Linked DNA regions of Homo sapiens. The protein of the gene in region 2 purifies or fractionates together with the protein of the main gene of each other region. This does not show direct contact. Each region holds a gene or a part of one and is shown on either strand. Other genes may lie near its edges.

The links.
Region 1: the proteins of RUFY4 (region 2) and TRAPPC9 purify together in Homo sapiens (affinity purification with mass spectrometry; 3 studies listed by BioGRID and IntAct, with this or other methods). This does not show direct contact.

The regions. Positions count from the first base shown.
Region 1 is NC_000008.11:140,454,543-140,462,604, reverse strand, and holds the start of TRAPPC9 (trafficking protein particle complex subunit 9), read left to right. Parts: upstream 1-4,860; 5' UTR 4,861-4,966; intron 4,967-8,062. UniProt on the Homo sapiens protein: Functions as an activator of NF-kappa-B through increased phosphorylation of the IKK complex. May function in neuronal cells differentiation. May play a role in vesicular transport from endoplasmic reticulum to Golgi.
Region 2 is NC_000002.12:218,064,240-218,072,320, forward strand, and holds the start of RUFY4 (RUN and FYVE domain-containing protein 4), read left to right. Parts: upstream 1-5,013; 5' UTR 5,014-5,109; exon of another isoform or gene 5,110-5,241; 5' UTR 5,242-5,319; intron 5,320-6,260; 5' UTR 6,261-6,366; coding exon 6,367-6,412; intron 6,413-6,510; coding exon of another isoform or gene 6,511-6,513; coding exon 6,514-6,620; intron 6,621-8,081. UniProt on the Homo sapiens protein: ARL8 effector that promotes the coupling of endolysosomes to dynein-dynactin for retrograde transport along microtubules. Acts by binding both GTP-bound ARL8 and dynein-dynactin.

The DNA.
Region 1 (8,062 bases), on a different chromosome or scaffold from region 2:
TCCTGACCTCGTGATCCACCTGCCTCGGCCTCCCAAAGTGCTGGGATTACAGGTATGAGCCACCGTACCTGTCCCAGCCTGTACTTTTAACTCACAGCTGTGATAATTGTCAACCTCAGCAAGCCTTGTGGGGCATTAGTCCCATATATAGATTATATATATATTATATGTGTGTGTGTGTATGTGTGTGTGTATATATATTTAGACAGAGTTTCACTCTTTGCTCTGTCTCCCAGGCTGGAGTGCAGTGGCACGATCGAGCTGACTATAGCCTTGACTTTCTGAGCTCAAGCAATCCTCTCACCTCAGCATCCCAAGTAGCTGGGACTACAGGTGTGCACAATCGTGCCGGCTATTTTTTAAATTTTGTGTGGAGATGGGGTCTAGCTATGTTGCTTGGGCTCATCTCTAGCTCCTGGGATCAAACAATCCTCCCTCCTTGGCCTCTCAAAATGCTGGGATTACAGACATGAGATACCGAGGCCAGCTTGGTCCTATTTCTTGAGACCCCTTGACTGGATGTTTCAGGGAAGCATATTCTGGCTGAGTTTACTGGATAATTTTCTTGTAGAGCTTGTTATGAACTGAATGTTCATGTTCTTCCCAAATTCATATGTTTAAATTTATTCCCCAATATGATCATATATGGATGTGGGGCCTTTGGGAGGTAATTAGGTCATAAGGGCAGAACCCCCATGAATGGGATTAGTGCGCTTCTAAGAAGAGACCAGGCTGGACACGGTGGCTCATGCCTGTAATCCCAGCACTTTGGGAGGCTGAGGCAGGTGGATCACCTGAGGTCAGGAGTTCGAGACCAGCCTGGCCAACATGGTGAAACTGTGCCTCTACTTAAAATACAAAATTAGGCCGGGTGCGGTGGCTCATGCCTGTAATCCCAGCACTTCGGGAGGCTGAGGCAGGCGAATCACCTGAGGTCGGGAGTTTGAGAGCAGCCTGACCAACATGGAGAAACCCTGTCTCTACTAAAAAATACAAAAAATTAGCTGGGTGTGGAGGTGCATGCCTGTAATCCCAAGTACTCAGGAGGCTGAGGCAGGAGAATCGCTTGAACCCAGGAGGTGGAGGTTGTGGTGAGCTGAGATTGCGCCACTGCACTCCAGCCTGGGCAACAAGAGTGAGACTCTATCTTAAAAAAAAAAAAAAAAAAGAGACCAGACAGCTAGTTTGCTCTCTATCTGTCATGTGAAAATACAAGAAGCCAGCCATCTGCCATTCAGAAGATGACCTTCATCACACCCTACCCATGCTGGCGCCCTGATCTCAGTGTTGTTCTAGTAATTTCTTATATCTGCCCAAACCAACTAAGACAAATAGCCACATCATCAAAGCATTCTGCCTGTTAGGACTTTTGTAGAGGGGAGAGAGTGTGAGTATGAGGTTGGACCTGGTTATTTTAGAAATTCCTTCCAACCTTAGATGTCTGTAAATTCCTTGAGGGCAGGTTTTGTATGTTTGAATTGTCACCCTTCAGAGGAGATGCTTAGGAAATGTTAAAGATGCTAAAGGAGCACAGCCCCAGGACCTAGACAGTACGGGGACTGCTTTGGATGTTCTCATTTGATCATTGTGGGCTGGGCTGTGGCAGGCTCTTACACTCTCTGAGCCTCCGTTTTCTCATTGGTAAAAATGCAGAGTAATAATACCAGCACTTTGGGAGGCCGAGGTGGGAGGATCATGAGGTCAGGAGTTCGAGACCAGCCTGACCAACACGGTGAAACCCCGTCTCTACTAAAAATACAAAAATTAGCCGAGTGTGGTGGCGCGCACCTGTAATCTCAGCTACTCAGGAGGCTGAGGCAGGAGAATCGCGTGAACCCGGGAGGTGGAGGTTGCAGTGAGCTGAGATCGTGCCACTATACTCCAGCCTGGGTGACAGAGTGAGACTCTGTCTCAAAAAAGTAAATAAATAAATTTAAAAAAAAGCAGAATAATAGTCCCCGCTCTCCTTCCCCCACAGATTTGCTGAGACAGCAACATAAATTGATTGAAGTGTGTACATTGCAAATAAGCAATGTTTCCTTTTGCCAGCTTTCAATCTTGCTTTCCAAGTTGCTTGCCTTATCCACTTACAGACAGAATAAGAAAAGACCTATGCAAAAAGTAGAGTCTGTGGGGTCTGACAGCCCTGGATTTGAATCCCTAAATAGCACCAGCCATTTGTGTGACCCCAGCCAAGTAGGGTATCCTTTCTGGACTTCAGCACTAAAAATAGCTCCCTTGCTTGGATCTTATGAGGTAAGCTTGGAGCCTAGTTTCTGCACTCAGACCTCCATTAGCAGTGGCCTTTTAAATGTATCTTTTCTGTATTCTCTGTTAAGCCCATACGCTCTTTTGTTTATTTATTCATTTAAAAAAAATAAAAAAAACCACTTTTTTTTTGAGACAGGGTCTTGCTGTCTCTCCCAGGCTAGAGTGATCATGGTTTACTGCAGCCTCGACCTGGCTGGACTCAAGCGATCCTCTTGCCTCAGTCTCCTGAGTAGCTGTGGCTACAGGTTTGTGCCATCCTGCCCAGCTAATTTTGGTATTTTTTCCAAGAGACAGAGTTTCCCTGTGTTGCCCAGGCTGGTCTTAAACTCCTGGGCTCAAGCAATCCGTCTGCTTCGGCCTCCCAAAGTGCTGGGATTACAGCTGTGAGCCACTGCACGGCCTCCATGCGGTCGTAACACCATGAGGTAGCCACGTTGGGCAGCTTGTGCGTTGTCAGGGAGACACTCTTCCTCAGCCCCTGGGCACCTCTGTTGAAAACTTCCTGGCTGTCTGGCAGGCTGGAAATCAGCTCTATTTGTTTTGCCCTGAAGATATGTTTTATTTATAACTCATTCTGACTCTGTAGAAAATAATTCAATAAAAACTCAATTGGTTTTCCACTAGCCCTGAGCAGGGATGAGGGATAGTATCTTATTTTATAACACATGTGATAATAAAACAGCCCTGGTCACATAGCCCAGAGCGGGTAAGTGCCTGCTGGCTGAAAGGAAAAATGCTGGCTCAGACCATTTCTCCCTTGCTGCTGTATGTGCTGAGAAAACCACTCCTGTCCTCTTTACTTTTCCATTTTAGGATTTTTTTTTTTTTTTTTTTTGAGATGGGCTCTCTCTGTCACCCAGGCTGGAGTGCAGTGGTGTGATCTTGGTTTACTGCAGCCCCCGCCTCCCGGGTTCAAGAGATTCTCCTGCCTCAGACTGCCTAGTAGCTGGGATTACAGGCATGTACCACCACGCTCAACTAATTTTTGTATTTTTAGTGGAGACTGGAGTTTCACCATGTTGCCCAGGATGATCTTGAACTCCTGACCTCAGGTGATCCACCCGCCTTGGCTTCCCGAAGTGCTGAGATTACAGGTGTGAGCCACCACACCCAGCCCTTTTTAGTGTTTGTTGTTGTTGTTGTTTGAGATAGAGTTTTGCAGTTGTTGCCCAGGCTGGAGTGCAATCGCATGATCTCGGCTCACTGAAACCTCTGTCTTCCAGGTTCAAGCGATTCTCCTGCCTCAGCCTGCTGAGTAGCTGGGATTACAGGCGCGCGCCACCACATCTGGCTAATTTTGTATTTTTAGTAGAGACGGGGTTTCACCATGTTGGCCAGGCTGGTCTTGAACTCCTAACCTCAAGTGATCCACCCGCCTCAGTCTCCCAAAGTGTTGGGATTACAGGTGTGAGCCATTTCTCCTGGCCAGGATTTTTTAATTGAAAAAGAAATACATGTACATGTTAAAAGATTCAAACAGAACATTAAACATACATAACGGAGAGCGGCTCTCTGTTTTCAATTTTCCCTGCGGATGCCACTGTTAATTCATGTGCTGGGCATCTTAAGTCTGTAAGCCTCCCCCATCTCCTGCTTTATTTTATTTTATTTTTGAACCCAGAGGGGTTTAAATCCTTAAATGGCTTCTGCCCGCACTTAGCAAGCTTGGCGCCTTGGCACTGAACTAACGACAGCTGTCCTAGCCCCTGTCGCCTCTTTGGAACCTTTTATGTGGATGGATTGTTGGGGCCCTCAAAGTCGGGAGTGCCATGGTGCCAGCTGGGGATCAAGACCGCGCGCCACACAGGGGGAAGCCGGCCCAGGCTGGGGCTCGCACCTCACGTGCCTCCCGGGCCCTGCGATCCTGGAGGCGCTCCCAGGCCGCGCGCGCCACGGTCACCCACCCACGTGGGGGGCACGACCGTGGGAGTCACGGGGGGTACCGTGAGGGTCACAGGGGGTGCCGCAGGGATCCACAGTGGGCTTCCGCGGGGCCTCCACCCCTGAGCTTCACAGAGGAAGTGAAATTTGAGCTGCGCGCCCTGAAGGACTGGTAAGCGGCGGGGACAGAACTGGGCCTCCTTCCAGCTGCGCCGCCCCAGGTGCAGAAGCTTTCCTCCTAGTCTCTGTTCTCTTGCTCCGGTCCCTCCCTCCCTCCTCGCTCCATCTCCCTCCATCTCCCTCCTTCCCTCCTCCTCTTCCTCCCTCCTTTCACCCCTCCTTTTTCCCTCCCTCCTCCCTCCTCCACCCTCTCCCTGTCCCCCGCTTCTCTCTCTCGCTGCCCCTCCCTCCTTCTTTCACCCCTCCTCCTCCTACTCTCCTCCTCCTCCCTCCCCGTCCCCGCTTCTCTCCCTCGCTCCTCCTCCCTCCTTCTTTCACCCCACCTTTTTCTCTCCCTCCTCCCTCCTCCTCCTCCCTCCCCATGTCCCCTCCCTCCCTGTCCCCTCTTCTCTCCCTCGCTCCTCCTTCCTCTTTTCTCCCTCGCTCCTACCCCCTTGCTTCCCTCGCGTCTCTTGCAAAACCCGGGACGGATCGGGGGCCCAGGCCTGGCCTCCGCGCACGCGCAGGAGCAGCGCCGGCTCGGCCGCCAGTAGGAAGCGCCAGCCCAGAGCCTGGGAAGTGGCCGCAGAGGCTGCTCGGCCCCGCTGCCCGCCAGGTCGTGGGCTCCCGCTCCGGGCCCGGGGCCACCGGCTGTGTAAGTGCAAAGCGGGGGGGCTCCCGGTCAGGCAATTCGGACCGGCTGCGGGGAGGGCTGCGCGGCTGGCCGTGGAGTCGGCGCGTCCCGCGGAGGGGCTCGCCCGGCCCTCACCTGTCCGGGCGGAGCCCGCCACACCTGTCCGGGTCCGCTGCCGGGCCGGGGTTCAGCGTGCACCTGCTCGAGGCGCCCTTGCTCCTGTTGGCGCTCTGCTTACATCTGTCCAAGGCCGTGTCCCACACCCGCTGAAGACTCGGCGGACACCTGTCCGGGACCCGGCCCACACCTGCTGCCCGGGCCGGCTCTGCTCTCCCGAGCTCGCGGCGGGGGTCCCCTTCCCCTCTGTGCCTCCGAGCTGTCTCCGCCTGGCTTCCCCTCCCGGGCCGTCCGCGGCGCTGGAGCCCCCCGCCCCTGGGCCTGGCTAAGCCCACTGGAGCCCGCGGGGTCTGGGACGCGCGGCTGGGGCCTGGGGCCCAGCACAGCCCACGCCCCCGGCGCTTTCCCCGCCCTGAGTTCCCGGACTTCTCCCCTAGCCCTTTCCCTCCTGTCTCCTGGATTCAAAGTGCCTGCGATCTAGCTGGGCGGCATCAGGCGGTGCTCTCTGGGATAAGCGCGCTGTCAACTCCAACTTATCCCAGGGAACCCTGGGGAGAGGAAGTCAGGCTACTGGCCTGTGGTCTTCTCCCTGTCAGCCCACCCCAATCCCCTCCACCCCTGCAGACCTTCCCAACGTGAATGTCTGTTAACCGAAAGTTTTCCCGTGTTAGGATGCGTTGTCTGTCTTCAAATGTTTCTATAGAGAGAGGAATTAAAACGCTGGAAGCAAGGCCCAGTTGAAAGGTATGGGGGAGTGACTTCCCTTCCATCCCTCACGGCCCCAGTTTAAACTGGTGACTGTCCCGTGTTTCTAAGGTAGTCATAGCTACCTATGACATCTTTATTTGTTAACCTGAAACAAAGCACCGGGTGGATGATGTTGGAGGCCCAGGAACATTGCCGTCCTAAAGATCTGGCTAGGTTTTGTTGTGTGTGTTTGTTCGTTTTTTTAATTGTGTGGAGGACTAGTAGTGTAGAGGGAAAAACAGTTGTCCGGAAACATGTAAACAATAAATGTTTCAGAAATCTAGTGTGTCAAAAATAACAGCTTCATTGAGCCTCGATTACCTGCCATAAAATCCACTGCTTTAAAGTGTACAATTCAGTGATTTTTCTTTTTTTTTTTTTTTTGAGACGGAGTCTCGCACTGTCGCCTGGGCTGGAGTGCAATGGCACGATCTTGGCTCACTGCACCCTCCGCCTCCTGGGTTCAAGCGATTCTCCTGCCTCAGCCTCCTGAGTAGCTGGGATTACAGGTGCCTGCCACCATGCCCGGCTACATTTTTTTTGTATTTTTAGTAGAGACGGGGTTTCACTCTGTTGGCCAGGCTGCTCTCGAACTCCTGACCTCGTGATCCACCCGCCTTGGCCTCCCAAAGTACTGGGATTACAGGCGTGAGCCACCATGCCTGGCCAATTCAGTAATTTTTAGTATATTCACACTTGTGTTACCATTGTCATTCCAGAACATTTTCATCACCCCAGAAAGAAACTCCATACCCATTAGCAGTCACTCCTCATTCCCCCCTCCGACAGCCCCTGGCGGCCACCGGTTTACTTTCGATATATATAGATTTGCATATTCAGGGCATTTCCTATTAATGGAATCATACAACATGTGGCCTTTTGTATTTAGCTTCTTTCATTCAGCACAGTGCTCTAAAGTTATTCATGTTGTGGCTTACATCAGCACTTTGTTCCTTTCTGTGGCTGAATAATATTCCATTGTATAGATTTAACATTTTGTGTATCAGGCAGTTGATGGACATTTGTGTTGTTTTCACTCCTTAGCTATTAAGAATAATGCTGTGCCTGGCCAGGCATGGTGGCTCACGCCTGTAATCCCAGCACTTTGGGAGGCCGAGGCGGGCAGATCACGAGGTCAAGAGATCGAGACCATCCCGGCCAACATGGTGAAACCCCCTCTCTACTAAAAATACAAAAATTAGCTGGGCATGGTGGTGGGCGCCTGTAGTCCCAGCTACTTGGGAGGCTGAGGCAGTAGAATCCCTTGAACCTGGGAGGCGGAGTTTGCAGTGAGCCGAGATCGCGCCACTGCTTTCCAGCCTGGCGACAGAGTGAGACTCCATCTCAAAACAACAAACAAACAAAAAACAAGAATAATGTTGTGCCTGTAATCCCAGCACTTTGGGAGGCTGAGGCGGGTGGATCACCTGAGATCATGAGTTCGAGACCAGCCTGGACAACATGGCAAAACCCTATCTCCACGGAAAATACAAAAATTAGCCGAGCATGGTGGCTCACGCCTGTAGTCCCAGCTACCCGGGAGGCCGAGGCATGAGAATCGCTTGAACCTGGGAGGCAGAGGTTGAGGTGAGCTGAAATCCTGCCACTGTACTCCAGCCTGGGTGACAGAGCGAAACTCCATCTCAGAAAAAGAGGAATAATACTGCTATGTACATTCCTGTACATGTTTCTGGTGTGGACACATGTTTTCAGATCTCTTGGATTGCTGGTTTTATAGTAGCTCTATGGAGGAACTACCAAGTTGAAGATACATATTTTTGCTGTTTTAATACCTGTATTAGCTTAGTCTCAGATACCAGAACTGGCTCAGTGGCAGGTGTCTTTTTTTTTTTTTTTTTAAAGAGTCTTACTTTGTCACCCAGGCTGGAGTGCAGTGGTGTGATCTCAGTTCACTGTAACCTCCTCCTCCCTGGGTTCAAGCGATTCCCGTGCCTCAGCCTCCCAAGTAGCTGGAATTATAGGTGCATGCCACCAAGCCTGGCTAATTTTTGTATTTTTAGTAGAGAAAGGGTTTTGCCATGTTGGCCAGGCTGGTCTCGAACTCCTGACCTCAGGCGATCCACTCGACTTGGCCTCCCAAAGTGTTGAGATCACAGGTGTGAGGTCAGGTTGTGTTTTTTTTTTTTTTTTTTTTGAGAGGGAGTCTTACTCTTATTGCCCAGGCTGGAGTGCAGTGGCGTGATCTCGGCTCACTGCAACCCCCATCTCCTGGGTTCAAGCGATTCTCCTGCC
Region 2 (8,081 bases):
CAGAGGGCCCCAGGGTGCCTCCTCCACCACCAAGAACCTTCAGCTCCTGGTTACAGTGCTGGCTCCCAGCTCTGGTGGTCAGCCAGACTGGCCAAGACCCTCCCCAGCCTGGACCAGCCCACTCCTCTCCAACTCCCTGCCCTCCATGGGCAGCAGAGTCCAAGCCAACCCCAAGTTGGGTCTCCAGTGCTGATCCCATTCGGGGCTCTCCCACCCACCTCTCCATCTCAATCCACATCCTCCCTCGCTCCATCCCACAACCCTGGGCCAGAGGTTTCAGGCAGGGGTTGCCCCAGCTGTAGCAAGTACTGAGGTCCGGGGAGAGCTGGAGTTGGGGATACAGGAGTGGCCACCAGCTGGCAGGGGAAGGTGCAACTTGAGGCCAAGTCTGAGCCACCATGATCTTTACCCACCCCAGGCAGCTTTAGGAGGGGAAGAGAGGGTGCTCCCCCTACACCTTCCCCACTGGTGCCATGCTGAAGGGGCAATTGGGGCTTCCAGAAGAGAAGTCCCTGTGCCCAAAGACCCTGGCACCCTAGTTTCCAGGTCCCCCTCCTATTCCCATCCCACAACCGCCTGCCTGCCTGCCCTCCCCCTCCAGTTCCTCCCCACCCAGCACCCATCCTATCCCCTAACCCCATCCCCTCCCCTGCAGGGAGCCCAGCCTTGAAGCACAGCAGGCTTCTCCGGGTCCCCCTTCATCACCCCGATCCCGTTTCCTTGTCTAGAACAGAGGCCAGCCTAAAACATCTGGGCAGGCAGTCCTAGCGCAAGTTCTGGATTGGGGGTTGGGGGACAGACACTGAGGTCAGCTCCATATGGATTCTCCAGCCTGGGAACGGGTGGAGAATCATCTCATCTTTGTGAGATGAGAGGGGCCATTTTCAACGTCCTCCCACTCCTTCCCACCCACACCCAAGCCATCTCCACATCGAGTCCTTTATCCAAAATTAGTCGTGGCCCCACTCAGCCCTCTCCCTGGCCCACTGCAGGCAGGGCATCAGAGTCAGAGTAGGAGAGGAGGGGTGGGGGGAGAGGGAGGGGCAGAGGGGAGGCAGCTTCAGTCTGCTCATTAACCACCTTGATTGGCCATTTCTGCCCAGAGGGGCGAGGAAGGAGGAAGGGCTTGTGCTGGGGAAGGTGCAGGGCGTGCTCCTGCCAGGCTTTGCCCAAGGGCAAGGGAGCAGGGCCCATGCTTTAGAGTGGAGATGGAGACAGTGCTTTGAACCCTAACCTTGCCGGGCCTGCCAGCCCCACTCACTCACTCACCTTTCCTGTAGAGGAGCCACTGAATGAGGTGGGTGTCTGGGACAAGGGATTCCCAGGACAGGAGTGGTGGCTGGTGGTGGGAGTAGCAGCTGTGGCTGGCAAGAAGCTGGTTTCCCAGAAGAAGGCAGCGAGTGAGCCTGTGTCCAAGCAGGGAGCGGGATGCAAGGAGCAGAGCTGGCCCCAGGGCCACTGCTGGGAGCAACTGAGCAGAGGGCTCTACTAGTGGGGTTCCCTCCCAGACCAGCCCAGGAGGCGGGTCAGCAGTGCACCGCCTCCTTCCAGGAGTCAGACAGCAGTGGGCCCCCTCTGCCAGCCATGGCCTCCTTTAACCCCTGCAATGCCCTGCTGGCTGCACTCTAGCCGGCTCTGGCCAGGCCGTGTCAGGGCACAGACACTTGGGGCAGGAGATCACCAGGGAGTGTGGCTGCCCCTCCTTCAGCCACTGGCCTAGCAGCCTCCCTGGGGACAGGAGGGGTGGGGCCAGAAGACTTGGGGGACAAGGGGGGTGGGGAAGGGAACAGGGAGGCATCAGGGCCTTGAGAGGGCCAGGACCCCATAGAAGAGACACAGGTGCAGAGAAATGTCCAAAGTGCTGCTAGGTGGGGAAGGATGGTTGCTGAGATGATGATGATGATGATAACAATATAGCAACTGTCATCTTTTCTTTTCTTTTTTTTTTTTTTTTTTTTTTTGAGAAGGAATTTTGCTCTTGTCGCCCAGGCTGGAGCGCAGTGGCACAATCTCAGCTCACTGCAACCTCCACCTCCCAGGTTCAAGGGATTCTCCTGCCTCAGCCTCCCCAGAAGCTGGGATTACAGGCGCCTGCAACCACACTCAGCTAATTTTTGTATTTTTAGTAGGGACGGGGTTTTGCCATGTTGGTCTCGAATTCCTGACCTCAGGTGATCCTCCTGCCTCAGCCTCCCAAAGTGCTGGGATTACAGGCGTGAGCCACCACGCCCAGCCAACTGTCAACGTTTCTACAGCACTCTGCTTTATGCTATTTCCAATTCATTTTGTGATTGCAGGCCAGGAATCTCACTTCTTTTTTATTTTAACTTTTTATTTTAAAATAATTATGTGTTAACAGAAGAGATTCAATGACGGTACAGACAGTACAGGTCTCATATACCCTCCACCAGCTTTTCCTAAAGATAACGTCTTACATTACGTGCCACATGTGTCCAAACTAACTAATTTGCATTGCTGCAATGCTATTCAGAGGACTGTGAGCCTTATGAAAATGTCACCATATTCTGAAATGTCTGTTTTCTGTTCCAGAACCCAATCCAGGATCTCACATTACATTGGATTGTCGCGTCTTCATAATGTCTTTCAAAATGTGACAGATTTTCCGTTTCCTTGTTCTTTCACAAACACCACACTGTCTTGATTACTGTTGCTTTAATGGTAATTTCTAGACTCTGAGAGCTGAGGATACCGATACACCTGTGTGTTTAGTCAGTGGGAATTTTGTACACTTTTCTGTATTTACGAAATATTTCAACACGCTAATACAGACAAATGTCTGAAGCTGCCTTGTCAGTCACCGTCTCTGTGAGATGAGAGAGGTCATTTTCAACTTCCTCCCGCTCTTTATCACCCATGTACAAGCCATCTCCGCATCCGGTCCTTTCTCCCAAGTTAGTCGTGGCCCCACTTAGCCCCCTCCCTGGCTCATAATGTCTCTAACCCCAGCCACTGGCACCACCCCGCAGATGGCTGCCCCACCTCCCGGGCCCCTTGCTCTGCCTTCTGCCCTCCCAATCCATATACACACAGCACACATGGGAGGGCTCCAGGAGAGCCAGGAGAGGAATAGGGGCATGGAAGTAGCAGGACTGGCAGTAGGAGTGCCCTGGCAGGCAGCCCAGATGTCCGGGTAGCCACTGAGCCTTGGCTCCTGAGGGGATCAGCACCCAGTAGATGTTTATCCACCCCAAGAACGAGGGTATCACACCTCCTCTAGTGAGGGCCCAGGTGATGGGTGCAGGCTGCTCTTCCCTAAGCCCCTGAAGAGGGGAGCCCCAAGCAGCAGCAACCCCCACTGGAGCCAGAGTCAGGGCACACCAGCTGGGATGGAGCTTGTTCCCCACAGTTAGAGGAGGGAGGGAGTCACAGGCAAGCTCCAGGCTCTCCCAAGAGGCCGCTTAGAAACCAGCTCATCTGATGCAGATAGACACTCATCCCCATCCCTGTCCCTGCCACTGTTGCACACCAGCACACACACCTTCCCCTCCTTCTCGCCTTGATCATCCACCTCCACTGCCCCTGGCACCTCGCTCCATCCCAGCCCCACTGACTGTCCCTGCTCCTGCCCACCCTAGCCTGGCCCAACAGGCACCCCCTCATCCGTGTCAAAGCTGGCTGTGTGGGAGGTGGGGAGGCAGGGACATGGGGTGAAGCAAGGAGACCCACCAACAGGGAGTCCTGAGGTCACAGGGACCTAGAGAGGAGTTACCCATCCCTGGTGATGCCAAACACCTCCTCTTACTCTCCCAGGGAGAAACCAGCGCCACACCTGTACCAGGCAGAGTGGTTCCCTGGCAGACACCTGCCTCCCAGCTCAGACCTGGAGGAGGGCAGGGGGCTGGAGGACAGCAGGGGACTGGAGGAGGGCAGGGGACTGGAGGAGGGCAGGGGACTGGAGGATGGCAGGGGGTTAGAGGAGGGCAGGGGACTGGAGGAGGGCAGGGGGCTGGAGGATGGCAGGGGGTTAGAGGAGGGCAGGGGACTGGAGGGAGGCAGGGGGCTGGAGAAGGGCAGGGTGCTGGAGGAGCGCAGGGGCAGGGATCCTGGACAGGGCCTCAGACAGACTGAATTGGGAGGGCAAGAAAGAGACCAAGGGTGCAAAGTGAGACACAGGGAACAGAGAAAGGGAAGGAATGAGGGAAAGACAGGGATGGGAGACAGGGACATGACACGGGAGACAGAGATGGGGGTTTCAGCCTCTGCATGGGGGATATAGGGACGGAGGAGAGGGCAGACGGGCTGGGGCATCCCTTGTGCTGGTTTTTAGATGCGGTTCCTGGGGTTTGTGAAAACAGCCGTCCTCCCAGGCCCCTGCTCCTCTGCCCCCATACTAGCCCCTGCAGCAGCCCAGCCTGGAGAAACGAGGACCCAGCATGGAAAGACCCCAGCCTCAAGGAGGCAGAGCACAGCCAGGAAGGGAAGCCCCAGCCCACCTGGGAAACCCACCTGGCCCATTGCTGGGCACAGGATCTCACTGGTGGTCTCACATCCATCCTTTTGGGAATGAGATCAGGACTAGGGATTCGGCACTGGTGACCAGCACTCAGGTGGACCGCTCAGCTGACTGAGGTGGAGAAGGAAGGAGGAGCGTGGTGGGACCCTCGCCCTGCCCTCCCCACTCTGGAGCGCTGCCTCTCAGCCCAACCAAGTGACAGAGACGAGACAACCACAGGAATAGCAGCTGCGGAGCTCCATGGCCTCCCTCTGCCCCCTGGTGGTGAGAAGGAGAAAAGCAAGAGCAGGTGCTGAAAACGAAAAGGAAACTAGCAGCAGTCCCAGCTACCACAATGGATCAGCCCCCATTTGGCCAACAGGTGACTCTACCCCAGGTGGGCCTGAGAGGACCCATCCCCCATCTCACCATTCTGCCCCAGCGCCCTGGATCCTGCCTCTACCACTTCTTCCCTGCAGCGTCTGCGGTTCCCCCACCGCTGTGAGCCAGGTTCCCCCTCCAGGCTGCTGGGCTGGGACTGAGTTACTTCTTCCCAGGCTGTAAATCCTGGGACTGCTGTGCAAGGCAGAGTCACTAGGGACGGACTCTGGCAGCAGAGCTGCGCTCTCGTGCCCCAGCCAGCCAGGCTCTCCTGGGTGAGTAGCAGGGAGACCCCTGGAACTTACGGGGATAGAAGGAGTGTGATGCCAGGAGCCAGGGGAGGAAAATGCCTGGCAGAGACGAGGGAGAGGAGGAGACACATGGAGCCGTTCATGGATTTCACACAGGATCTGGGCTGGAAGGGGCTGCCGAGACCATCAGTCCAATCTTTGGTCTACAGGTTGGGAAACTGAGGCTCAAGGAAGGTGAGTGATTTGCCGGAGATCACACAGTGAGTTCATAGCCAGGCCAGGATGGAGACCCAGGTCTCTGGACTCCTGACCCCGTCCTCCCTGAATCCCATGCTCCACCCACCTCCCTCATTTACCTCCGTTTCCCTCTCCCCTTCCCTCCACTGTGTCCCACTGCTGTACCACTGCCACCCCACCCCAAACTCCAACAGCCACAGCCCGGGAGGCAGGACACCTGGGTTTTCCGCTCCATGCCTGGTCTTGACTCTAGGATCTCAGAATAAGGCCACCAGCTGTCAGGGCCACAGTGTCCCTCTCTGGGCCCCAGGACCCATGGGGAGGAGAAGAGGATGAGATCCCCCTGGAGAGAAAGGCAGTATTACAACCAGGCGCCCTGCTCCCCACACACACGCAGCATGTGCTCAGCCCCAGCCCTGGGGCCGTGCTTTACTTCTGCACCCTCTCCTCAAAGAACACATATTTTCCATTCAGCTGGGGCACAGGAAAGGATGAGTAGGTGTCTCGAGGAGACTGAGTACCCAGGCAAGGCTAGGGGCACTCCATGGGGAAGGAGTGGACACCCCCAGCCTAGTGTCCACATATCATGAGCCCTCACGGGGTCACTCACACCAAGTCAGGACCCAGAACACAGGCCCTGTGGGCACAGACACCTGAGTTCAAGTCCTGGGTACCTCTGTGATGCTGGATAAAAGACTTACCCTCTCCAATCCCCTGTTTCTCCTGGTCTAAAATGGAGTTAATAACCTCCAGGATTATGTGAGGATTGAATGGGACAAGGACATCAAGTGTTAGCACAGTGTCGTCACCCAGGGACTGCTCAATCGGTGGAGGCCACACCATCATCTTCACACACTGGCCTACAAGATAGAGCTGGGATTCTCCCCCTACTAGGTAACTTGCTATGTCACCCAAGATTAGTCACTTTCCCTCTGTAGGCTCTGCGTCCTGCTTTGTGTAAGGAGAGAGCTGGGCAGTGAGGCCGAAAGTCCTTCCTGAGCTCACAGTCCAAGTTGCAAGGAATCACATCATTTCCAAGTACCCATGGCAGAAGAGGGAGCCATCCTCAAGGTCACCAAAGACCTAAGAGGTGAGTGTGTCCTGAGAGATGCTCTGGGACTGAGTCATGGGAGAAGTCAGGGTCTGGGAGCCCCTCCCTCAGCGACCTGACATCTGCCATCCTCCCAGCAGCTGCCGTCTCTGCCATCCTCCAGGGCTATGGGGATGGGCAGGGGCCAGTGACGGACACCAGTGCCGAGCTGCACAGACTCTGTGGCTGCCTGGAGCTGCTGCTGCAGGTGGGACCTTCTCCTCCCCTTCCCCATCCCTCTCCCCAGACCCAGATAACTGGTGGGACATTCCTGGAAAATCAGGGAGGAGCCACAGCCCCCTTCCTTACCATGCACTGTGTCATCTCCCTCTCCCTCCTGACACCTAACCTCACTCTTGGAGTTTGTCACTGCAGCCTAAGAAGTGAAGTGGGGCAAAGCGGGGCTGGAAGGGACCCAGGCCTGGTGGTGGGACCCAGACCTGGGGGCAACCCCCACTGCTTAAACTTTCAGAGGCATTGATGTCCTAGGACTGGCCCTTCCTGCTGCTACTCAGAGCCCCAACTATGACCAGCACCGCTTTTATTGAATACTTGCTATGTGTCAGACTTCAGCCTCTATATGCCTGGCTTTATGCAATCCTCACTCTCGCCCTCTGAGACGCTTGATGTCCACCCCCCAACACCCCGACACACATCTTCCTGCTTCTCTGACTTCATCTTTTGCCACCCTGCCACTCATCTACTGCACTTCAGCTCCCCTGGCCTCTTGGATCTTCCTGGAGCACACCAGTCATGCTCCTGCCTCGGGGCCTTTGCTCGGGCTCTCCCCTCTACTTAGAATGCTCTTCCACTGGAATGCACAGCATACTTTCTCAGCTCCTTCAAGCAGGAAGGCTTTTCTGGGCACCCTAGATTTTCAACACACGTGCCACACACACCACACACCACAGCTACCACAATGGATCAGCCCCCATTTGGCCAACAGGTGACTCTACCCCAGGTCGGCCCGAGGGGACCCATCCCCCATCTCAGCATTTTCCATTCTCTTTCCTGCTTTATTTTTTTCTCCGTAGCAGTCATCACTATCTAACATACTCGATGCTTTACTTATCTCATCTGTTTGTTGTCTTAACTCCTTTATCAGGGCCACAGTGTCCCTCTCCGGGCCCCGGGACCCATCGGGAGGAGAAGAGGATGAGATCCCCCTGGAGAGAAAGGCAGTATTACAACCAGGCACCCTGCTCCCCACACACAGGCAGCATCTGCTCAGCCCCATCCCTGGGGCTGTGCTTTACTTCTGCACCCTCTCCTCAAAGAACACACATTTTCCATTCAGCTGGGGCACAGGAAAGGATGAGTAGGTGTCTTGAGGAGAATGAGTACCCAGGCAAGGCTAGGGGCACTCCATGGGGAAGGAGTGGACACCACCAGCCTAGTGTGGATCAAGATGTAAGTATCAAGATGTAAGTTCCATGAAGTCAGTTTGTTCATAGTTGTATCCCCAGACACACAGAGGAGGGCCTGGAATATAGCAAGAGCTCAATAAGGGCCTCTGAATGAATGAATAAGAACACTGAGGCTCAGGGAGGTCAAGCCCCTTGCTCGTGGTCACACAGCCAGTAAGGACAGGGCTGGGTCTGGATGCCGGGTGTGTCTGCAGGAGCCCTCTCCTCCAGTACATGTCCCCTCAGCAAGCTAGAATGCAGGG